7 linked regions of the Homo sapiens genome follow. The protein of the gene in region 3 purifies or fractionates together with the protein of the main gene of each other region. This does not show direct contact. Each region holds a gene or a part of one and is shown on either strand. Other genes may lie near its edges. The genes, in order: RAI14, PPP1R12C, PPP1CB, GSK3B, PPP1R2, YLPM1 and CCDC85C.

The links.
Region 1: the proteins of PPP1CB (region 3) and RAI14 purify together in Homo sapiens (affinity purification with mass spectrometry; 3 studies listed by BioGRID and IntAct, with this or other methods). This does not show direct contact.
Region 2: the proteins of PPP1CB (region 3) and PPP1R12C purify together in Homo sapiens (affinity purification with mass spectrometry; 3 studies listed by BioGRID and IntAct, with this or other methods). This does not show direct contact.
Region 4: the proteins of PPP1CB (region 3) and GSK3B purify together in Homo sapiens (affinity purification with mass spectrometry; 3 studies listed by BioGRID and IntAct, with this or other methods). This does not show direct contact.
Region 5: the proteins of PPP1CB (region 3) and PPP1R2 purify together in Homo sapiens (affinity purification with mass spectrometry; 4 studies listed by BioGRID and IntAct, with this or other methods). This does not show direct contact.
Region 6: the proteins of PPP1CB (region 3) and YLPM1 purify together in Homo sapiens (affinity purification with mass spectrometry; 3 studies listed by BioGRID and IntAct, with this or other methods). This does not show direct contact.
Region 7: the proteins of PPP1CB (region 3) and CCDC85C purify together in Homo sapiens (affinity purification with mass spectrometry; 3 studies listed by BioGRID and IntAct, with this or other methods). This does not show direct contact.

Annotation. Positions count from the first base shown.
Region 1 is NC_000005.10:34,806,328-34,809,827, forward strand, and holds part of RAI14 (ankycorbin), read left to right. Parts: intron 1-136; exon of another isoform or gene 137-155; intron 156-1,472; coding exon 1,473-1,530; intron 1,531-2,256; coding exon 2,257-2,327; intron 2,328-3,500. UniProt on the Homo sapiens protein: Plays a role in actin regulation at the ectoplasmic specialization, a type of cell junction specific to testis. Important for establishment of sperm polarity and normal spermatid adhesion.
Region 2 is NC_000019.10:55,093,638-55,097,137, reverse strand, and holds part of PPP1R12C (protein phosphatase 1 regulatory subunit 12C), read left to right. Parts: intron 1-802; coding exon 803-876; intron 877-959; coding exon 960-1,087; intron 1,088-1,197; coding exon 1,198-1,271; intron 1,272-1,534; coding exon 1,535-1,693; intron 1,694-1,779; coding exon 1,780-1,847; intron 1,848-2,339; coding exon 2,340-2,477; intron 2,478-2,702; coding exon 2,703-2,793; intron 2,794-3,500. UniProt on the Homo sapiens protein: Regulates myosin phosphatase activity.
Region 3 is NC_000002.12:28,775,830-28,779,329, forward strand, and holds part of PPP1CB (serine/threonine-protein phosphatase PP1-beta catalytic subunit), read left to right. Parts: intron 1-1,021; coding exon 1,022-1,153; intron 1,154-2,979; coding exon 2,980-3,210; intron 3,211-3,500. UniProt on the Homo sapiens protein: Protein phosphatase that associates with over 200 regulatory proteins to form highly specific holoenzymes which dephosphorylate hundreds of biological targets.
Region 4 is NC_000003.12:119,823,135-119,825,447, forward strand, and holds part of GSK3B (glycogen synthase kinase-3 beta), read right to left. Parts: 3' UTR 1-2,313. UniProt on the Homo sapiens protein: Constitutively active protein kinase that acts as a negative regulator in the hormonal control of glucose homeostasis, Wnt signaling and regulation of transcription factors and microtubules, by phosphorylating and inactivating glycogen synthase (GYS1 or GYS2), EIF2B, CTNNB1/beta-catenin, APC, AXIN1, DPYSL2/CRMP2, JUN, NFATC1/NFATC, MAPT/TAU and MACF1.
Region 5 is NC_000003.12:195,522,826-195,526,325, reverse strand, and holds part of PPP1R2 (protein phosphatase inhibitor 2), read left to right. Parts: intron 1-1,429; coding exon 1,430-1,507; intron 1,508-2,539; coding exon 2,540-2,634; coding exon of another isoform or gene 2,635-2,637; intron 2,638-3,500. UniProt on the Homo sapiens protein: Inhibitor of protein-phosphatase 1.
Region 6 is NC_000014.9:74,766,316-74,769,815, forward strand, and holds part of YLPM1 (YLP motif-containing protein 1), read left to right. Parts: intron 1-3,500. UniProt on the Homo sapiens protein: Plays a role in the reduction of telomerase activity during differentiation of embryonic stem cells by binding to the core promoter of TERT and controlling its down-regulation.
Region 7 is NC_000014.9:99,594,208-99,597,707, reverse strand, and holds part of CCDC85C (coiled-coil domain-containing protein 85C), read left to right. Parts: intron 1-3,500. UniProt on the Homo sapiens protein: May play a role in cell-cell adhesion and epithelium development through its interaction with proteins of the beta-catenin family. May play an important role in cortical development, especially in the maintenance of radial glia.

The sequences.
Region 1 (3,500 bases), on a different chromosome or scaffold from region 3:
TTCATCCTAAGTACAGCATGGAAGTGTGAGGGGCTTTTAAGTAGACAGTGAGAGTCACAGTTTTAAAAGAGAATTCTGTTTCTTTAGAGAATTGATAAAAAGGGGAAAAATGCAGAACTGGGGAGACGTGCCAGGAGGCTACCTTAGCTGTTCAGGTGAGAAGACGCTGTCCTAGAAAAGGGTGTCGGGAACAAGAAAGGGAAGAGGGTAGAGTGGAGGCGAGTTTTGGAGAAAAAAGTTGACAGGGCATGGTGGTCCACTACATGTGGGGTGAGGAAGAGGGGTCGGGGAAGGGGGTGGAGGATGAGGAGGAATCAAAGCTGAATCGCTGGTTTCTGGCTCAATGTCTAGACTGATGATGATGCTGTTGATGGAGAAGGCAGTCAGGGAGGAGCAGGTGGGGCACGGGGGAGGGGAAGCCAGAGATTTTGGCTGGGCCTTTGAGATGCTAATAAGACATCAGAGCAGAGATGTGAAGTAGGCAGTGGGTTATCAAGCCTAGCGCTTGAAGATGACAACTTTTGTGTATGAGTAAGAATACAGGCCCTAGCCCAGCCTGTCTGAGTTTGAATCTTGGCTCTGCCATTTACTGCGACTTGAGCAAATTATCAACTTTTTTGTGCCTCCGTTTCTTCATCTGAAAGTGGAAGTAATGATAGTATCCACCTCGTGTTGTTAGGGGACATAAAGCAGTTCTTTGAACAGTGCCTGGCACGTGAGAGCTAATACTTACATAGCACTTATTGTTGTCACTGTTAGGACCTCCGCATTTGGGAGTCACTAGCGTTCATTCTTCTAGATGATATTTCAGGTTGTGGGTGTGGAGGAGCTTACCAGGGAAAAGAGCTTAGAGGAAGAACACTGAGGAGCCCTGAGGTTTTCTGTTTGGCTAGAGGAGGAGCCGCAAGAGGAAAAGCAGAATAAGATGAGCCAAGCAGGGCTCTAGGAGCTGAGAGGTTGGAGAGAGGAGGACAGAAATGTTTATCGTCATTGGAAACATGAAGGTTTTTGGTGACCTTGACCAAGGCCATCTCCTTGGACTCGAGAGGGGACACCCAACTGCAGTGGTTTTGGGAGTGAATGGAGGTGAGGGTGCGTGGACTGCATGTGGGTAATCCTTAAGAGAAAGCTGGTTTCGTGAAGGGGGACAGAAAGGGCAGGAGATGGGGGAAAAGAAAGGATTAAGATGAGAGAGCCTAGAGTATGTCTATTAGCTGGTGGGGTGCTGGAGTGATGAGGGAAGGAGAGGAACAGATAGGTGAAGCAGCAAAGAGGGGAGAGTTTGCCCATCCCAAAGACATGAGTCTCCTTCCCCATAGGAGACTGTAGGCCCCTGGAACACAGCAGCTGGGGCTTATTTATGTTAATAGTCTTCCTAATAAGTCACATCATACCTTGCAGGAAAAGTCTGAACTGAATAGAATTGGGGCAGGGTATTTTATTATATGGATGTATTTATTTTTGTCTTATAGTCTAAATGCCCAGCCGAAAGTGTCGACAGCTCTGGGAAAACAGCTTTACATTATGCAGGTAACTTTCATTCTCCTATTTGTCTTCTTCTGCCATTAGAAACACCAACTTTTCTTTTTCCTTATTCAGGCCATTAACCTTCCATACTATTCCTGGTGCTCTTTTCTGTCATCATTTCTAAACATTCCCATTTTACTCTGTTTGTAAAACATACACAGTTTTACCGAGGCATATGCCTAGAATTCATCAATTCCTTTGCCACCTAACCACTGAAAATTATCACGATTAATATATTTTAACTAATTTAAGGTTTCTTTTTAAACTAAGAGATATTCTAAGCATTTGTAGATTTCAGGTAATGTGTGATACAGACTTTTTGATTTGAGGATTATTATGAACATCAGTCAATTTTATTTACTAATATTTTGTTTAGTATGATTACACAACTTGAAGTGACAAACGTTGACACTGAACTATGAGTGATTAGATTTACACATGTGTTTTATTGCTAGTTGTGGAAAAGCTAAGTCCTGTGAAAACCTGAGCCAAATATTTGCCTAAAGGCAACTGGCAGTCATTGGCTTTAGGCCTGCATAACTCTGAAATTAAGCAGTAATTTTAAACACCTCACTCCTAACCTTCCTAATACCATTTCTCTTCAATGCAACTAGAGTGAATATATGTAGAGTGGGTAGAACATGAACATTTCCTTCCTGAAGTATCTGATACCCCTGGTTGTGAATAACTGTGTGATTGGCTGTGGTATTTATATTTTCCTTCCCCCAGCGGCTCAGGGCTGCCTTCAAGCTGTGCAGATTCTCTGCGAACACAAGAGCCCCATAAACCTCAAAGATTTGGTAAGTACCAGGTGGTCACTAGAGGCAGAGGTAGACATTGGTTTCTAGAGCTCAATGGGATACCTCTAGAGTCACTGAGACTTTAGACTAGCAGTCTCCAACCTTTTTGGCATCAGGGGCTGATTTTGAGGAAGATAATTTTTCCATGGATGGGGGTGGGGATGGTTTCAGGATGAAACTACTGCAGCTCAGGTCATCAGGCATTGGAGTGCACAACCTAGATCCCTCACGTGCTCAGTTCACAATAGGGTTTGTGCTCCTATGAGAATCCAGTACTGCTGCTGATCTTATAGGCAGTACTGCTCACTCGCCTGCCACTTACTCCCCGCTGTGCAGCCAGATCCTAACAGGCCACAGACTGGTACTGATCTGCAGCCCCTGGGTTGGGTACTCCTGTTTTAGACAACTAAGTATTGGGCAAATTCTATTGCTTTTCAACCTAGATTCTCTTCTGCAAAATGGATTTATGTATTACTCTTAACCCTTTTCCCATTTGCTCCAAGAATACTCACCAGTGGCGTTTGGGGATACAGCATTTACCTCAAGATAACTTTGCCACGAAATATCTCATTTTTATTATTATTATTTTCCCATCACTCTAGTGTATTGACTTTGGAAACAAAAGACATCATTCTGTTTATAGCATTCTGTTTTTAGTAGTGGTATTTCCATTTACAAAATGTAGTAATTCTCGACCACTGAAAATGTCAAATCCTAGAAAACGTAGCATTCCTATGTGTGATGTTAATATCGTTCTCAAAGAGATCTTGGCTGAAGATTCATTTGATGAATCCGATTTTTCTGAGACAGATGATTCTGGTGTTAGTTCTGTTTAGAAATAACTCCAAGAACAGTTTTTATATTTTATTTTCACATTGAAAATCAGTCAGATTTTCTTCAGCCTCAAAGAGTGTGTTTATATAAAATTAAATGAGCTCTGGCAGAGAGCTGCACTTTTTTTTTTTTTTCTAAACTGGGAAGAAGGTTAATTAGCTTCTAAAACATTAGTAAAACATTTTGCAGCATATATTTCCTATATAGGTATATTTATTTCTACGGCTATACATGTTTTCTACCATCAATGTAATTACAAATAAAGCTTAATTTCTTGATTTTTAAAAATAAGTCTAAATAGAAATTTTACTACTTTCTTTCTGCACTTGGATAACTTCT
Region 2 (3,500 bases), on a different chromosome or scaffold from region 3:
TGGGGAAGGGGTGAAGACGGTGGTGAACTGCGAACTGCGCGGGGTAGGGGTGAAGACGGTGGTGAACTGCGGGGAAGGGGTGAAGACGGTGGTGAACTGCGCGGAGAAGGGGCGAAGACGGTGGTGAACTGCGCGGGGAAGGGGCGAAGACGGTGGTGAACTGCGCGGGGAAGGGGCGAAGACAGTGGTGAACTGCAGGGAAGGGGCGAAGACGGTGGTGAACTGCGGGGAAGGGGCGAAGACGGTGGTGAACTGCGGGGAAGGGGCGAAGACGGTGGTGAACTGCGCGGGGAAGGGGCGAAGACGGTGGTGAACTGCGCGGGGAAGGGGTGAAGACGGTGGTGAACTGCGCGGGGAAGGGGCGAAGACGGTGGTGAACTGCGGGGAAGGTGTGAAGACGGTGGTGAACTGCGCGGGGAAGGAGGAGGCGAGTGCCGGCTGCAGGAGCCGGGGCAGCTGAGGGCCCACCAGTGCCCTGGGTATGCTGAGGGGTCGGGGTGAGGTCTAAGCAGGTCTCCCCTGGGAGCTAGAAGGACCCCTCTGGGGATGAGACTGGAGGCTTCTCATGGGTGGGGGCCGTGAGGACAAGACGGCAGTGCCTGCACGTGGCAGCTGCGGGCGCCTGCTGGACGCAGGGCACCTCCTGCCCCTGAGGTGTGTGGCCATCTGTAGGAAAACCAGTAAGCCCACGAGCCCTCGGTGCCCGCCTGGGCAGTGAGCTCCTGCACAGCTGTTTGTGGTGGTGTTGCTGTGGGGCACGTGTGCTCCACCCCTCCCCTGCAGCCCCCTTCCCTCCTTGCAGCTTCGGAACCAAAAAGAAGCTTCCCAGAGCCGGGGCCAGGAGCCCCAAGCGCCCTCTAGCAGCAAACACAGAAGGTATAGGGAGGGAGGAGTCCAGGGCTGGCGGGGTGGCTGGAGGCCCCGGGCTTGTACCCCAGCACCCTCTCCTTCCCCAACAGGAGCTCTGTGTGTCGTCTGAGCAGTCGCGAGAAGATTTCCCTCCAGGACTTGTCCAAGGAGCGCCGGCCTGGTGGGGCTGGGGGGCCCCCCATCCAGGACGAGGATGAGGGGGAAGAAGGTCCCACCGGTGAGGGGCCTGAATCTGGACTCCTGGGTCCGAGGGAGGAGGGGTCGGGTTCTCTGAATCTAGAGGCAACTGGCATCTTCTGTGACCTGCCCGGTGTTCCCACATCACAGAACCACCCCCTGCAGAACCCAGAACCCTCAATGGCGTCTCCTCCCCGCCGCACCCCAGCCCTAAGAGTCCCGTGGTGAGTGGATGCCCTGAGAGGTCCTGTGAGGCTGGGAGGGCCCGGAGGTGGGATTCCATACAGCCTGTGAACCTCTGGCAGGGGCAGATAGGGGGAAGACTATAGTTCCCAGAGTCGTCCTGGACAACCGGCTTCCTTTTTAGGCTGTGCCTGCCCCGGGGGCTGATGGGAATTGTAGTTTGTTGCAGTCCTTTGGGGGCTAACCCTTGAGGTCTGAGAAGAGGGATCCTTTCTCTCTAACTGAGACCTCCTCCTTCTCCCAGCAGCTTGAAGAGGCCCCCTTCTCCAGGCGCTTTGGCCTCCTGAAGACAGGGAGTTCTGGTGCCCTGGGTCCCCCTGAAAGGCGGACAGCGGAGGGAGCCCCTGGGGCTGGGCTGCAGCGCTCGGCTTCCTCCTCCTGGCTGGAAGGGACCTCCACTCAGGTGAGTGAGGGTTGGGCCGGGTCCAGGCCCAGGCCCCTGCCCAGTCGAGGGAACTGCCCCTTCCTCCCCTTCTCCTCTCCACACAGGCCAAGGAGCTCCGTCTTGCCAGAATTACCCCGACCCCCTCCCCGAAGCTGCCGGAGCCCTCTGTCCTGTGAGTCCCCAGGGCCTGGGCCCCTCAGGGGTGGGTGGCAGATGTGGGTTCCAAGCCTGTCCGTGTGATCCTGAGTGAGACCATGTACCCCCTGGGGTCTGGTTCCTGCCGCCACTCCAGAGCCTGTGCTGTGTTCCTCTTGGGGGCTCTCTCCCTCCCTCAGGTCTGTGTTGAAACGTCACCTTCTCCCCTATCTTCCCCCCACCCCGAGGTGCACACTGACCACCCTGCTGCCACCACGGCGCCGTCCGCACACGCACACCCTCCCGCTCTCAGTTCTCGCACTGCTGCTTCTGTCCAGAGTCCTTTATCCTTCTGACCGGTTGCGTAGTGTGCTGGTCTTTTCATGGCTTTTGTGGGTTTTGTGTATTTCTGCTCAGCTCTGACTCTGTTGTGGCCCAGATAATTTGTTTCTTTCACTCACGGCTGCATCTCCAGTGCCGGCACACAATGCACCTGGGTAATGTTTGTGGAATGAATGAATTGATGCAGGTCTGAGGTCACCAAGCCTCCTCCTTGCTTGGAGAACTCCTCGCCTCCCTCCAGGATTCCGGAGCCTGAATCCCCAGCGAAGCCAAACGTCCCCACAGCCTCCACGGCGCCCCCAGCGGACTCCCGGGACCGACGGAGGTGAAGAGGCCAGGGCAGGAAGCTGCCGCCCCCGCCCCCAGCAGGGAGAGACGATGTGAAGCAGGAGTCCCGGGGCTTTGGGTGGGCTCCTGAGGGAGAGCTGGCCTCAGGTCTGCTGGGAGTTGGAGTCCCCTCCCACAGAACTTGCTTCCCGCGGAGGGTGTCAGCCACGGAATGGGACAGGGTCCCCAGGTTCCCTGTCTGAGGTTGGGACCCTTCCCTCAGGTCCTACCAGATGCCTGTGCGGGATGAGGAGTCGGAATCCCAGAGAAAAGCTCGCTCCCGTCTCATGCGCCAGTCTCGGAGGTCCACACAGGTGTGGGGTGGGCTGGGGTCTGGACTCCTGGGTCTGAGGGAGGAGGGGCTGGGGCCTGGACTCCTGGGTCTGAGGGAGGAGGGGCTGGGGGCCTGGATTCCTGGGTCTGAGGGAGGAGGGGCTGGGGCCTGGACTCCTGGGTCTGAGGGAGGAGGGGCTGGAGGTCTGGACTCCTGGGTCTGAGGGAGGAGGGGCTGGGGCCTGGACTCCTGGGTCTGAGGGAGGAGGGGCTGGGGCCTGGGCTCCTGGGTCTGAGGGAGGAGGGGCTGGGGCCTGGACTCCTGGGTCTGAGGGAGGAGGGGCTGGAGGTCTGGACTCCTGGGTCTGAGGGAGGAGGGGCTGGGGCCTGGACTCCTGGGTCTGAGGGAGGAGGGGCTGGGGCCTGGGCTCCTGGGTCTGAGGGAGGAGGGGCTGGGGCCTGGACTCCTGGGTCTGAGGGAGGAGGGGCTGGGGTCTGGGCTCCTGGGTCTGAGGGAGGAGGGGCTGGAGGTCTGGACTCCTGGGTCTGAGGGAGGAGGGGCTGGGGCCTGGACTCCTGGGTCTGAGGGAGGAGGGGCTGGGGTCTGGGCTCCTGGGTCTGAGGGAGGAGGGGCTGGGGCCTGGGCTCCTGGGTCTGAGGGAGGAGGGGCTGGGGTCTGGGCTCCTGGGTCTGAGGGAGGAGGGGCTGGGGCCTGGGCTCCTGGGTCTGAGGGAGGAGGGGCTGGGGT
Region 3 (3,500 bases):
GCAACATTCTGTTCCCCTTCATCCCACAAGTTACTGGAAACCATATTATCTTATGGCTCAGTAATGCAAAGATGCCTCACTCCATCTAAATAGCCTTTAGAGGTTTTAATATAATGATCTATTGGGAATGTAACGATAAGTTAATTTTTAATACATAGCTGATATCTTTTTTGTATTTCTTTTGATCAGAAAGTAGAGATAGGAGTTGCTAAAATTTTGGGGACTGCTGGTAACATTCCAAGAAAGTGTGTGAAGCTAAATCACCTACTGACAATTACTATTTAATCTCCCTTTCTTCATAGCACATTGTTCTTAATGAGGCTGTTTTGACATCCTACTAGATGCGAGATAAGCAGGCCAGACCTTAAAGGGTGCGGGCTCTGAAATGTTTTTTTGTGTGTGTTTTTTTTGTTGTTGTTTTTTTTCTGTTTGTTTGTTTTTTTTTTATTTGAGACGGAGTCTCGCTCTTGTTGCCCAGGCTGGAGTGCAATGGGGCGATCTCAGCTCACTGCAACCTCTGCCCCCGGGTTCAAGCGATTCTCCTAACTCAGCCTCCCAATTAGCTGGGATTACAGGCATGCGCCACCACACCTGGCTAATTTTGTATTTTTGGAGAGATGGGGTTTCTCCATGTTGATCAAGCTGGTTTTGAACTCCCGACCTCAGGTGATCCACCCACCTCAACCTCCCAAGGTGCTGGGATTACAGGCATGAGCCACCGTGCCCGGCCCTGAAATCTTTTAAGTCTCTTTGGCTACTAGGCCCCAGGTTGGTCACAGGACAGCAAAAAACAGGACTGCATTTCATCAACAGCAGACTTGAGGAGCATCATCAGGAACCAGTAACAATGAAAATAGAAGTCAGAGATCATAGAATAACATTATTTTAAACCATGGGACCAAATAGGGTAATTTGCTGCCTGTGTGACTTTTCTGATTTTTAAAGTATGGGCATGACTCTTTTTGAAAGATTATTATGAGTAAATTTTAGAAAACTGACTGTTTTATTTATCGTTTGTCAGTACGAGGATGTCGTCCAGGAAAGATTGTGCAGATGACTGAAGCAGAAGTTCGAGGCTTATGTATCAAGTCTCGGGAGATCTTTCTCAGCCAGCCTATTCTTTTGGAATTGGAAGCACCGCTGAAAATTTGTGGTATGTAAATGGGTAAAGTTGGAAACAACTCTTTTGAATCATGTTTTTCCTCCCATGTTTAAGATCTAGAGAAAACATTTTTTGAAATTTTTGTATAAAACAGATCAGTAGGCTTTACTAAATAAAAGTGTATAAAAATTGAAACTTATAAAAATGACAAGTTACAGACAAGATGAAAATACTTGCTATATATCAACAGATAAAAGGAGTTCTATTTATAATATATAAAGAGTTCTTATAAATAAGAGAAAGGCGATACAGTATAAAAATAACATAGGAAGAGGAAGGTCTTAGAAGAAATTCAAATGGCCAGTAAACATAAGGACGTCAGCTTCTTTTTTTAGTAATCAGTGATGTGCAATTTAAAGCAAGTCTCCAACTCTAGTCAGATTATAAAAAAATACCAAAGATTGATGTTTAGTGTTGTCAAGGATGTCACGAAAAGGGCATCATAGTACACTGGTTAGAAAAAAATAGGTGTATAATTTAGAGGGTCAATATGGCGATATCTGTGGTCTTCTAACTTTGATGTTATTTAAATTTGTTTTGAAGATTATACTACTTTATACCTTGTATTCTTTTAAGTTTTACAGTGACTTTTTTACAGTCCTTTGTACAGTGCCCAGCAAATAAGAGATACTCGCTAAGTAAATGTTTGTTTTTTGTTTGTTTGGTTGGTTTTTCTTTGAGACAGAGTTTCACTCTTGTTGCCCAGGCTGGAGTACAATGGCACAATCTTGGCTCACTGCAACCTCCACCTCCCGGGCTCAAGTGGTTCTCCTGCCTCAGACTCCTGAGTAGCTGGGATTACAGGTGTGAGCCACCACGTCTAGCTGACTTTTTGTATTTTTAGTAGAGACAGGGTTTCTCCATGTTGGCCAGGCTGGTTCTGAATTCCTGACCTCAGGTGATCCACCTGTCTTGGCCTCCCAAAATGCTGGGATTATAGGCATGAGCCACCGCAGCTGGCCAATAAATGTTTGTTGAATGGATCAGTTAACTTAGAATATCACACCTTCAAGTAAGAGGTAGTAGTTCAGAATTTGGGGGAACTAATCAATCCCCTGTATAAACTTAAGCAAATGTAGTTACTTAGAGGTGATCTTAAAATTATTAGAATTAAAGTATTCTTTGAAGGTGTTCTTTAAAATGTAATATAGAAATAACTTGAAGGTAATGGAAGTTATTTGTACTACATATTTCTAAAGGTTTACTATTTGTCTCCATATTTGGTGTTAAAAAGTGACGTAAGTTAAACTACCAGATAATAAAATTGTTTTAGTTACCTATTGTTGTATAATAAATCATTCCAAAACTTTGTGGCTTACAGCAACATTAATTTACCATCTCACAATTTCTGTGGGTCAGGAATTCAGGAACAGCTTAGTGGGTCCTCTGGCTCTGGGTCTCTCACAAGGCTCCAATTAAGGCGTGATCTCGGGCTGCAGTCATCTGAAGGTTGAACTGTGAAAGGATTCAGTTCCTTATAGACTGATGGACTAAGAGCCTCAGTTCCAAATGAGCTGTTGGTCAGAGGCCTCCCTCAGTTCTTTGCTACGTGGGATGCTTCATTAGACAGCTGGTTTCATCAGCGAGCATGGAAGAAGGTGAGAGAGTGCAAGCAAGATGAAAGTCACAGTCTTTTGTAACTTAATCTTGGAAGTGACAGCCCATCTCACTTTCGCTTATTAGAAGTAAGTCACCAAATATAGCCCATACTCAAGGGTAGGGGAGGATTACACAGGATGTGAACATTGGGAATCATTTCATAGAAGCTGCTTATAACAGTAACCAATTTTTCTAAAACTGACTCTTTCTCTTTTTAGGAGATATTCATGGACAATATACAGATTTACTGAGATTATTTGAATATGGAGGTTTCCCACCAGAAGCCAACTATCTTTTCTTAGGAGATTATGTGGACAGAGGAAAGCAGTCTTTGGAAACCATTTGTTTGCTATTGGCTTATAAAATCAAATATCCAGAGAACTTCTTTCTCTTAAGAGGAAACCATGAGTGTGCTAGCATCAATCGCATTTATGGATTCTATGATGAATGTAAGTGAAAATAAAGACTTAGAAAAGTAATTCATGGAAACATTGCCTAATAATTTTCTGGTTCAGAAGAGTTGCTTTGATTCAGAGTTTTTTCAAAATAAGATCTGTCAGGCATAGGCCAGGAAGAGGAACCTGAAACTGGGAAACATGTTACTAATTAAATTGGTTCCTTGAGATCTCCTTGGTCATATTTCAGATTGACTGCAGCTTACTTGGCTGAAGAGGCTCTTTTAAAATTAGTTTATCTAGTAAACTATCCAGGTGAAACAGAAGTCACTGTAGGCAGTGGC
Region 4 (2,313 bases), on a different chromosome or scaffold from region 3:
ACCTTTGGTTTGGTAGTTTTTTCTTCTATTCAAGACATTTTATATGGACTACTTTGAGGCAAAACATTCTATTTTTCTTTCAAAAAAGGCCTTCGTGTTGGGCACACAGTAAGAATTAAACTGATTTTTTTTAAAAGAAATTAAAATGATATTTCATTGAGCAAGGGTAGAGATGGCGGGAGGGAGGAAATGGGCTAAGAGTTCCCTTGTTAAAACAACAGTCCTCTATTGGCACGGTGGCACTCCGTGCAGTAACTGCTAGTAATTGCACTATAGCATTTTAGACCACTGACGTATCAAAACCTGATACTATTAAGAAACTTCGATTTATAAAAAAACAATTCTCTGTCACTCTCTCATTTGGGAGGGAAGTAGATAAAAGAGGAGAGAGAGAGAGCATGGAAGGCTCCCAGAATCTGCTGTTTTTAAGACCCATGGTTAGGGCTTGTGGAAGAGACGAGCAAAATTTAATCTATTCGATATCCTCCAGCTCTAGGGCTCCCTGGTGCTACACTAAGTCCCTGAATGGACTAAGTATGAAATGAAACCGGTCTCACTGCTACCGAGGAGGAAAGACATTCAGAACCAAAACAAAGGCAGGGCTTCAACGAAATGAAATTACGAATATGATTTCCTCTTCCCACTCCTGAGTATGGTATCACTGAAACTTAACTGTGGAAGGGGCAAAGATACTGTTATGAGTGAGTTATTATTTCAAAGGGAAAGGGGGTGGACAGGGAGACATGGATAAAGGAAACCAATTAAAATTTAAAAAAGAACAAATTAAAAAAAAAAACACATGGAAGCGAAGGCACTCCAAACTATATAGATACACTATACATTGCTAGAGTTATTGTTACAATAATACAGGCCGGTACCTACTGTACAGAGTTAAAACTATATGGCTTTAAAAAGCTCGTCTACATTTTGTCTGATTATTAAACAGAATCACTGCCCTGAACAGTAACTTTTTGCTCATTAATAACAGTTCCTGGGTCCACATATTTACATACAAAACAATAAAACTTAAATTTAAAAACACAGAAAGAAAATATAATGTACAAGCTTGAATTTGGTGAGGAGCTTTTTATTATTATTATATACAAAAAGATATTCAGAGACCTGGATCTCACTTGTATAAAAGAGTTCTGTGATCCCACCATGATCCTTGAGAAAGAAAAATCACACATCTCAGCACACACACACACACACACACACGCACACATGCACACACAATGAAATGAGAGAAAAGCGTGACTTTTCTCTCTTCTTTTACCCCAGTTGTGGGGGGCAACCTGTTTCCTAAAATAAGCACTGATTTTTATGGACTCTGGGGAGTATACCACGTCCAGAGCAGTGTCTGCATCCAAACGCTTGCTGGGCAGTTGGATCTGAATGCAGGTCCATTTCTCTATCACAGACCTGCCTTTTCAGATTCTTTATAAATTCTGTCTGAAAATGGTCTATCAACGCCACTACCTTTAAGGAGTTATGCTGCCAAATACTTTGATTTCAGACTTCTTTCAAATCTTAGCTTTCAGAAGCACTTTATAAAACATAAAATTCAATTTGTTTGATTTGGTTTGACTGAGCATGTTTCCTTTCTCATAAACTCTGATATATCCAGAGGTTTGTGAAACCCCTTTTGTGGCCCAAGACCTCAGCTAAACAGCGAGTGAAAACCAAGATGGCTCACAGTTGTCTTTCTGGGTACTGGTTCACTTCAGCAGGCAGGACAACTCTCTTGGAGAGTCACACACACAGTTAAGGAGCAGGACAGGGTGCTAGGGCCTGCAGGAGGGCTGCCAACAGACTCCACTTCCGAACCCTCTGGAGGACGAGACCCATAAAGTGACCTAAGGTGGCAATGAGGAGGGTGAGGGCAAGTTACACACAACCATGGGCTCAGCTCTGCAGCCCTACAGTTACCAGCTAACCTTGGAAGGCATGTGGGGAAGGAGCGGGTAGGAGGGAAAGGCGGCCATCACTCAAGTGATCTTTAAATGTAAAGTACAACTGATTGTGCCTTAAAGATTCATAGGTCAAGTAATGGCCCATAAGCACCAAGGTGACTAAAGTTCATTTTAGAGTATATAAGGCCCACATAGATGCCAACCTTAAAAGTATAAAACAAACTAGTCATGAAAATCTATTTCCTCACGGCAAACATAGTCCTTCAATTCTCCTTGCTTTCCAAGGAATATTGCTTTTTCTTCAAAAAGAGAGACTGATTCTTAACATCGTTCACTGATACACAAAGAAAACAGACACAAAAACTCTTAACTGGGTGTGGGGGAAACATTCTTCTCATGC
Region 5 (3,500 bases), on a different chromosome or scaffold from region 3:
AGGAATTGGAGATGAGCCTGGGCAACATAGAGAGACCCCGTCTCTACAAAAAATAAAAAGAATTAAGCCAGGAATGGTAGCACATGCCTGTAGTCCCAGCTACACAAGAGGCTTAGGTGGGAGTATCACTTGAGCCCGGGAAATTGAGGCTGTAGTGAGCCGTGATGGTGCCACTGTACTCCTGGGTGACAGAATGAGACCCTGTCTCAAAAAAAAAAAAAATTTTATTTAAGTGAAGATGCTTTTTATAGAAACATCATGTCTTATTATCTAAGAATCTCACAGTTAGTATACAAGAAGTTATTGCTTCTGTATACATGTACATATATAAACATAATTCAGTAAATTTTACAACTAGAATTTTCTATAGAACGATTCTATAAATTAACAAAATGTTTATTTTACCTTACTTTGCTTGATTAAACTCAATAACATAGATCAATTTCAACTTCCCTTAGAAAAAAGAACGTCATCTAAACTATAGACTTACTTGTCACCTTAATTAACCAGGAAATGTATAAACTGGCAGTATTTTATAAATAGCTGAGTTCTGCTTTATATACTTTGCAGTGGCTTAAGAATTAAGGTTGCCCATTTTTGCATTGAAGTGGGGAGCAAATTTTTCATTAGAGGGTAGAGTGAGAAAGCTAAATCACTTGTAAACTTCCGAAATTAGATCTTTGGGATCGAATTTTGTTACTTTACTCAGTCTTGTGTCTGCGTAGATCTTTTGTCTCTATCTTAAGATTGATGTAGAAATACATGTTCTAAAACCAGACAGTGATTTACTTTGCATTACTTGTTCCTTCCCACTGGATGGAATAATTGGAACTTTGTAGTATTTTTTTTTCCAGATCATTTACGTTTTCAGTACAGTTATTCCTCATTATCCATGGAGGTTTCAGGACCTCCCTCAGATACCGAAATCCTCAGACACTCAAGTCTCTGATATAAAATGGCATTGTAGATGTATATAATTATGCACATCCTCCTGTATGTGTTAAATCATCTCTGTGTTAGTTATATTACCTAATAAAATGTAAATACTGTGCAAATAGTTGTTACACACTGTATCATTTAGGGAATAATGATAAGAAAAAAGTCTACATGTTTAGTACAGAGGAAATTTTACTTTTCTCTGGCTATTTTCAATCCACGGTTGAATTCATGGATGTGGATCCTGTGGATATGGCAGGCAGACTGTATTTATGTGTTTTTTTTAATCATTTGGAGTCTTTTCTTGATTGGGTGCTGTACTTTTAAGTATTTGTATTGAATAGGAACTATATAAAGTTAAACCTCAAAGATATCAACAGAGCTATAAATATATTGATATGTTAAGTAGGTTGATGGAATTGTTTTTCTCCCTTGTTTTTGTGGCTGAAAATGTATGTTTCAGGTATTAATTACAATGTGCTTGTCATACTAGTATGATGGGGGATGATGAAGATGCCTGTAGTGACACCGAGGCCACTGAAGCCATGGCGCCAGACATCTTAGCCAGGAAGTAAGTACTAATGACCGGAGCACATTTTCACTTAGGCTGTTTATAATCGTGCAGAGTTGAAAGCAGCCTGCGTGGCTGTCCCTGTATGAGCGGGAAGAAAAGGCTGTTGATCAACATGTTTTATGCCGACTTTTTTTTCCTTTTTTCCCCCTTTTTTCACCTTCTGAGTCACCAACTTTTATAGTCTTGTCTCTTGATTAAAATCAAGGTATGTAGGTGGCAGGAAGACCAGCGTACCTGCACTTGGGATACTGAAATGTGTCACTTCCCTGTGGGGGGTTTTATTTGTTTTCTGAGACAGAGTCTCGCTCTGTCATTCAGGGTGGAGTGCAGTGGTGTGATCTCAACTCACTGCAACCTCCACCTCCCAAGTTCAAGCAATTCTCGTGCCTCAGCCTCCCCAGTAGTAGCTGGGATTACAGGCCCATGCCACCAAGCCTGGCTAATTTTTGTATTTTTAGTAGAGACAGTGTTTTGCCATATTGGCCAGGCTGGTCTCGAACTCTTGACCTCAAGAGATCCGCTGGTTTCAGCCTCCTAAAGTTCTGGGATTACAGGGGTGAACCACCGCGCCTGGCCCCTGCTTCCTGTTTTTAAAGGTAGCAGTGAGAAAGGCAAAAATAAGTTAATTCATAAAAGCACTCTTCCTTTGCTACTTACTGATTTCTAGCACCCATTCCACTGTTCTTGTCTATGCCCATTTCTACTCTTTTTATTCTTTTTTTTTTTTTGAGACAGGGCCTTGTTCTATCACTCAGGCTGGAGTGCAGAGGCGCAATCAAAGCTCATTGCAACCTCAAACTCCTGGGTTTAACTAGTGCTCCCACCTCGGCCTTCCAAATAGCTAGGACCACAGGCGTGTACCACCATGCCCGGCACGTTTCTGCTCTCTTGCCTTTTATTTTCCTCATCAGGTTATAGCTAGCACATTAATGATCTTCAGATGTTTTTGTAAGAATCAACAGTTGAATAAGGCGCTTAAATAATATCAAAACATCACTGTTAATTTCTTTGTACATGATTGTTGCATAGATTAGCTGCAGCTGAAGGCTTGGAGCCAAAGTATCGGATTCAGGAACAAGAAAGCAGTGGAGAGGAGGATAGTGACCTCTCACCTGAAGAACGAGGTAGTTTATTTCCTTTACTGCTTTCATCATGGTGCTAGTAATTTTTGCTAAGATAAATCCATTATTTGGAAGATGAGCAAATGGTTTTCATTTTGGGGACACACAGGGGAGGAGAATGAAAGCAACATCTTTATAATTCAGATACTACTTGTGTGTTTTGTTGTGTAATAGTTTTTTACCCCTGATTTCAAGAATATGGGGAAGTATTACCATCTTTAAAGTAATTATAAGTATTATTTTCTTTGTACTTTTTAGTGCAGAGTAGATACTCAGTAAATACTTTTTAAATTAATGCATTTCAAGTCATTGAGCGTTTGGACGGTCTTAAAGTGGGTAGCTGAAAGAGCTAATTTCCCAGTTGCTTATGCTTTTTGTGTTGTTGGACAGTGATGCAACTTAACAAATGAACCAAGATGATCAGATGCAGAGTGAAGGTCTTTATTAGGTCCCATCAATCAAAAGGAGCAGTAGTGTCACAGGAAGGGAGATGGAGACAGCCCTCCCCTTCACAGGGATGGAAGAGGGTCTCGTAGGCCATTCAGCACATACACATTTAAGGCATTGCTGCCTGCTCGTGCTTTCTGTTTCCACAAGTAAAAGTGGTTACCCGTGGAGGCTGGGAGAAAAGGAGTATGTCTTATCTTGTTGCATTTTATACTTTTTGATTCATGTGAATATATAATCTTCTCAGGAGTTAAAAAATTGTGTATAGTTTATTTGCAACTATTTTTAAAGGAAAATCCAAGCTTGTGGGTAGAGGGGAAAGATATAAGAAAAGCACATACTCACAAAAAAGAGGAAGAAGGAAAATATGGTAGAAACCTACTTGAAGTGTTGTGGCGTAGGGACTACCTCCTGTACCGTGA
Region 6 (3,500 bases), on a different chromosome or scaffold from region 3:
TCATATTTTGTTTTTGGAATGTGTCATTCAAAATTTCTTATCGTGAAATATTTTTAAAATACACAAAATAGAGAAAAAAGTATGATTCCCCATACATACCCATCATTGAGATTCAACAGCTATCAAGATTTTGCCATGTTTACTTCACCTAGGCCTTTTTTATTATTGTTGCATATATATATATTGAGACAGGGTCTTGCTCTGTCAGTCACCCAGGGTGGAGTGTAGTGGCATAGTCTCAGTTCACTGCAACCTCTGCCTCCCAGGCTCAAGCCATCCCAAGTAGCTGGGACTACAGGTGCATGCCACCATGCCTGGCTATTTTTTTTTTTTTTTTTTTTTGGTAGAGACGGGGTTTTGCTATGTTGCCCAGGCTGGTCTTGAACTCCTGAGCTCAAACAGTACACTGCCTTGACCTCTCAAAGTGCTGGGATTATGGGCATGAACCACCACACCTGGCCTCTGCTGAAATATTTTAAAGCAAATCTTAGATCTTATGTCATTTCATCCCTACATTCTTAGTCAAGTACCTCTATAAAACAAAACAAAACAAAACCAAGACCTTTTCTTTTTTTTTTTTTTTTTTGAGATGGAGTCTCACACTGTTGCCCAGGCTGGAGTGCAGTGGCGCGATCTTGGCTCATTGCAACCTCTGCCTCCCGGGTTCAAGCGATTCTCCTGCCTCAGCCTCCTGAGTAGCTGGGATTACAAGTGCATGCCACCACGCCTGGCTAATTTTTGTATTTTTAGTAGAGACGGGGTTTCACCATGTTGGTCAGGCTGGTCTTGAACTCCTGACCTCATGATCCAGCTGCCTTGGCCTCCCAAAGTGCTGGGATTACAGGCGTGAGCCACCGTGCCCGGCCAAGACCCTTTCTTAGATAAACACATTGTTAACACCTAACAAAGTTAACAGTTTCTTGGTATCATCTAATACCTGATCCGTTCAGATTTCCTTTATTGTTTCATCATACTAATGAACTAAAAATAATTCTTTGATACCATCCATGTTAAAATACCCCAAATTGACTCAACAGTGTTGTTGTTTTCTGTCCTCACAGTCTGTTCCCAAACAATGTTTTTTTGGTGTGTTCAAGTCAGAGTCCAAACAGAATACTGAAAAGATTCTTAGTATAGATCAGGGTTTCTCAGCTTCGGCACTATGGACATTTTGGGCAGGATGATTCTTTGTTGTGGAGGGGCTTGTCCTATGCATTGTAGGATGTTTAACAGCGTCCCTGACCTCTACCCATTAGATGCCAGTGGCAGCCCCCAGTCCGACAACCAAAAATGTTTCCACACATTGCCAAGTATCCCCTGGAGACAAAATTACCCTCTGTTGAGAACCCTTGACCTAGGTCAGTCCCTCCTATTTTCTTTTTCTACCTCATGTCTTTGAACTTGATGAAAAATCTGTTGTCAGTTTTCCTGTAGAATGTCTGACATTCTGCATTGTCTGCTTTTTCATGGTGTCACATTTGACTTGTTCCTATGTCTTCCACATTTTTTTTTTTTTTGAATTAGAAGTTAACTCTGGAACCTTCATTTAAGTTCAGCTTTCTTTTGGCAAGTGTTGCATTCCTCATGGGACACCCGATGCCTGGTTGTCCCACTGTTAGTAATGCCATTGGTCCCTCTACTGTAAAGCTTTCTATCAATCTTGCATCTAATGTTTCAGTCTACTGGTTCATCAATTGAAGAAAGACCTTGCCTAAGTAAATTATTTCATTAGACAGAGGTTGCAACCTGGTGATTTTTTTTTTCTGCCATTTCTTCCACAGTTACTATATGGAGTTATGTAAAGAAAAACTTTTGCCACAGATATTTGATTGGAAATACAGTTGGTATAGGAAGGACAAGATAAATACTTGATATTTTTCCAGGTGTTTTCTAGTTTTTCGGGTAAAGTGTTGATGATTTAATGGAATGTGTTTTTTTGTTTGTTTGTTTCTGAGAGAGAGTCTCACTCTGTCGCTCAGGCTGGAGTGCAGTGGTGAAATCTCGGCTCACTGCAACTTCCACTTCCTGGGTTCAAACAATTCTGCCCTAGCCTCCCAAGTATATGGGATTACAGGTGCATGCTACCATGCCTGGCTAGTTTTTGTATTTTTAATAGAGATGGGGTTTCACCATGTTGGTCAGGCTGGTCTCGAACTCCTGACCTCAAGTGATCCACCTGCTTCGGCCTCCCAAAGTGCTGGGATTATAGACGTGAGCCACTGCGCCCGGTCGGAATGTGTCTTTTTGAATAATTAATTTTTCTATGTGTTTAAAGGACTGATTTATTTAGTTAAAGCTGTTGGCTTTGATTAGTTTTTAGAGGTATCATTTATTTAATGTTTAAATACTTACGGACTAGCAACTATGTGCCAGGTACTATGAGTACTGTGCTTAATACTGGAGATGAAATGGTTAACAAGATAGACATGGGACCTGCCCTCATTGACTTCTTGTTTCAGTTGTGGGGGAAGGGAGAAGACATTTAGTAAGTAATTAAGAGGAGACGTACAGAGTGCTATGGGATTATAAAATATCACTAGATTATTCCCCAAGGAACTGGCAAAGGCAAGTTTTTTGTTTTTTGTTTTTTTTTTAAGTTACCACTGTATTCACAGTACCTTGCATAGGATCTAGCGCATAGGAGGTGGAGAACAAATATATTTTAAATAATTGAATATAGCTGGGAGCGCTAACCTAATTAAAGAGGATTCCCTTTGTAAAGTGATATTTTTTATTTTTTATTTGTTTTTATTTTATTTTATTTATTTTTATTTTTTTGAGATGGAGTCTCGCTCTGTTGCCCAGGCTGGAGTGCAGTGGCGCGATCTCGGCTCACTGCAACCTCCGCCTTCCGGGTTTAAGCAATTTTCTGCCTCAGCCTCCCTAGTAACTGGGATTACAGGTGCCTGCCACCACGCCCGGCTAATTTTTTTGTATTTTTATCTTTTTTTTTTTTTTTTTTTTTTTTTTTTTGGAGACGAAGTCTCACTCTTGTTGCCCAGGCTGGGGTGCAATGGCACGATCTCGGCTCACTGCAACCTCTGCCTCCCGGGTTCAAACAATTCTCCTGCCTCAGCCTGCCTCAGCTACTCCCAGGAGTAGCTGGGATTACAGGCGCCTGCCACCACGCTTGGCTAATTTTTGTATTTTTAGTAGAGACGAGGTTTCACCATGTTGGCTAGGCTGGTCTCGAACTCCTGACCCCAGGTGATCTGCCTGTCTCAGCCTCCCAAAGTGCTGGGGTTACAGGTGTGAGTCAGAGTGCCCGGCCATTTTTTTTTGTATTTTTAGTACAGAAGAGGTTTCACCATCTTGGCCAGGCTGGTCTTGAACTCCTGACCTCGTGATCCACCTGCTACGGCCTCCCAAAGTGCTGGGATTACAGGCGTAAGCTGCCACGCCGGGCCTGTAAAGTGATATTTAAATGAACTCTAAAGAATAAGTAGGAGGACTGGGTGCTCACACCTGTAATCCCAGTTCTTTGGGCTCATTAGAGGCCG
Region 7 (3,500 bases), on a different chromosome or scaffold from region 3:
GCATTGAGAATCCGGGGCCTGCAAGGTGGACCCAGGATGTGTGTGGGGAGATAACTCTTAGGGGGGTTAGTGCTGTGGGCAGCCCCACAGGGCAGACCCCAAAGTCCCAGCTTTTCAGACTTCAGTGCCCACAAGCAAGAGTGGCCCAGGTGGCCTGTGTTGCCTCCAGGGCTGGGGAGCGCTGTGTCAGGGGAGGTTGCGTGGACACTGAGAAGGGGCATTCCTGAATCCACTGAGGATGGGGCTTGTGGACACCCCAGACAGCTCTGGGAATCTGGTTGAGATGTGGGTTCTAAGACACGCCCCACATTACAACTGGGAAGGGAAAATGCCCAGCTTTGAATGTGTGTGTTCAATCCAATCTGGTTGAACCCAGAGCCAGGTGGGAAGCGGGACTTGACCTCACAGGTGGTAATTTGCTCTTCAGGAGGAAGGGAAGCGTCTGCGGACTTCACTGAGCATTTACTGCCTCTGAGGTCTGAGTGCCTCCTGAGCAGTGATTCTTGGAGTCTGGCTTGGGGGGTGGTGGTTCTGGAGCATCACTCTGGTGACCACTGTGGTGTGGGCTGGGCTGGGGGAGCAGTGGGTGGAAGCTGAGGGCTTCCATCGGGAGGAGGTTCTGGCCAGGAGAGTGGCCACAGGAGAGAGCCTTCTGTAGGTTCCAGACCTGGTGAGTCTGCTCCAAAGTCCTGCTCTCAGCTGCTATCTGCCTTCTCATGACCTCTGTCCTCTAGGGCAGGCGTCCTGAGCTCTTGGGTGGGGCTCAGGCAGGACAGCGCCTGTGGGAGATGCTGCCGCTCCCAGGTGGCTGCTGTGCCCTCCATCCCCAGCGCTGATGCTGCTCCCCGCTACTCCCATCCCTACATCTAGGGTGGTTGGGATCAGCGTCTGGGATCTAGGCAGGGACCACTCTGGGGTTCAGAATTCTCATCTCCCTGCTACATAACAACAAGAGACTCTATTGGCATCCCCAAAGGCTTGGGGATAGAGGAACAAACTTGTCTGCTAAAGGGACTTGATGCTTCTTTGATCATAACATGTCAGAAATGGTCCCCCTCCCCTAGGCAAGCACCCAGGATTGGACACTCATACATCCCCTGTCCTCACAGGCAGAGGGTTCTGGGCAGGCCTGGAGCCGGGTCAGCCGGGGATGGGTGCCTGTTCTTCAGCAGGTCACCGCTGACCTCCAGCTCTTGAGGGGAGCAGAGCAGAAAGATCAGGATTGTATTGACTGCCTGTAAGTGTTCTTGGGTTTGCCTTATGTGTACTGTTCAAACAGAGGCGTGGAGCATGTTTAACTACAGTAGATGGCCCTGGGGAGGAAGCGAGGGTCTGATTCCCTTTCCTTCTTCCTGATTCCTCAACGGCAGAGACATTCTGCCATTTCCTCAGTTCAAAGCTGGGCATTTTCCCTTCCCAGTTGTAATATGGGGCGTGTCTTAGAACCCATGTGGACATTTGCTGGCAGGTCTTCCCCTCTCTGCCCCTGGAAAAGCCCTTGAGTAGACTGTGTCTGCGGCTGATGGTATCTGAGAGTGGAACAAATGCCAGGCCCGGGAGAGCCGGAAACCCCTGAGCAAACTTCACAGAGTCCTAAGGCACTAAGAGACTTGAGAAAGACAGGGGCCCACCCCAGGGCCAGCCACATGGGTGCTGGAGCCCTCCCTGCCCACCTGGGGCCCTCTGTCATTACTGTCTCTTCATCTGGGAGTTTATGAGCCTGGGACTCTGGTCCTCTTGACTCCCAGCCTTGGCACAGAGTGGCAGGTTCTGAAAGTCTTTTGGATGGAACAAACGTGTGCCTGGCACTGTGCTGACAGCAACTGGGTTTTCTCTCACTCGCCTCCCACAACAGTTGCTGGTCCCCATTGGGGTCCCTGTTTCATCTAAGGAACAGGCCCAGGATGGTGAGGCAAGTTACAGCAGGGGCAGGGTGGGGCTGGGCCAGGTCAGGGACTCCCGTCCAGTTGAACCCGGAGCCTGTGCCAGCCGGTATGTCCCGGTTCCCTTGCCCTGTGGGTGTGATTATTCATCATGCCCCTTTCCCTCAAGGAAATGCCCAGGTTGGGCTCTTAACCTCTTCAGGTGTGCTGGGAGCTCAGAGGAGGGGTGGCCGAATTGGGAACTGAGATGGGCCTTGAAGATGGAGTTAGTAAAAGCAGAAGAGAGCAGGTAAGAAGAGAGACCAGGCTTCGCAGAAAGAACAGCTGAGCTGGGCGGATCACCTGAGGTCAGGAGTTCAAGACCAGCCTAGCCAACATAGTGAAACCCCATCTCTACTAAAAATACAAAAATTAACCAGGTGTGGTGGCACGCGCCTGTAATGCCAGCTATTTGGTAGGCAGGAGAATCTCTTGAACCCAGGAGGCAGAGGTTGCAGTGAGCCATCGCGCCACTGCACTCCAGCCTGGGCCACAGAGCAAGACTCATCTCAAAACAAAACAAACCAAAACCAAAACCAAACGAAACCAAAACAAAAAGAAGAGCCGAGCAAAGTCATGCGGTGGGCATTTGCCTGCACCTTGGGTTCAGCTGGGGTGATGGATGAGTGGGGACCCAGGACAAGCACTGGGGCAGTGAGCAAGGCCAGGGCCGGTGGGGTCTTTGAAGCCTCTTCTACTGTCCCTGAAGTCCCTAGGTTGGGCTTTCCTTCGGGGTGTGGGCAGTTCTAGCTCTAACCTTTTCTGATGGACTTTCCAAGAGGACCCAGAGTTACCTGTTAGAAGTCCTATTAGAAACTGGAAACTTTTTACAGCTTATCCCCATCTTTCCCCTGCTCCCCACCTGATAAATATGCAGACACATCACCTGCTGGGCCTGAGTGGCCTTGTCAGCTGACATGCTCCCTGCCTGGGGGTCTTGGAAGATTACTAGTGTTCTGTGGATTGGACGATCCAGACAGAACCAGTGGCTTCAGCCCACTTGAGACCCAACCATGTGTAAGTCTGTGCCTCTCCCTGGGCCCTCATTTTCCCATCTGTAAAATAGGAAGCTTGGATGGGCTGAGCTGAGAGTCCCAGGGACCCTCATCTCTTCTGGCCCTTTGACTCAGAGCCACAAGGAAGGGGTGGCCTCCCCTGCCCATCCTGCCTCCTATCGGTCACTCAGTGGTCCTATGAGCCAGCTCTTTTATATTCCTGGGAATTCTCTTCCTATGCCCTACAGCCTGGGTTTTATCACCTGCCTCGTGGTTGGTCCTTGCCTTGGGGCAGGTGTGGGGATGGTGAGGCTACCTGTGACCACATGGGTCCCACTGTGGGGCCTAGAGATGGTGACCTGTCTAAACGCTGTTTGAGGCTGAGACCCTGGCCCAGACCAGCCTCCCCTCCTGCAGGGCCCCAGTGGAAGTACCTGCCTCCCCTATCTGATTGCCTCTGCTTAAAGGACTCAGTAAGGGGTTTAGTGCAAGAGGAGAACACTGAGCTTCAATTCCTGGTGCAGGTTTGCTGGGGACAAGGCTGCATGTTCCTGGACTCGAGGTTCCTCTGCTTGCTGTCCTG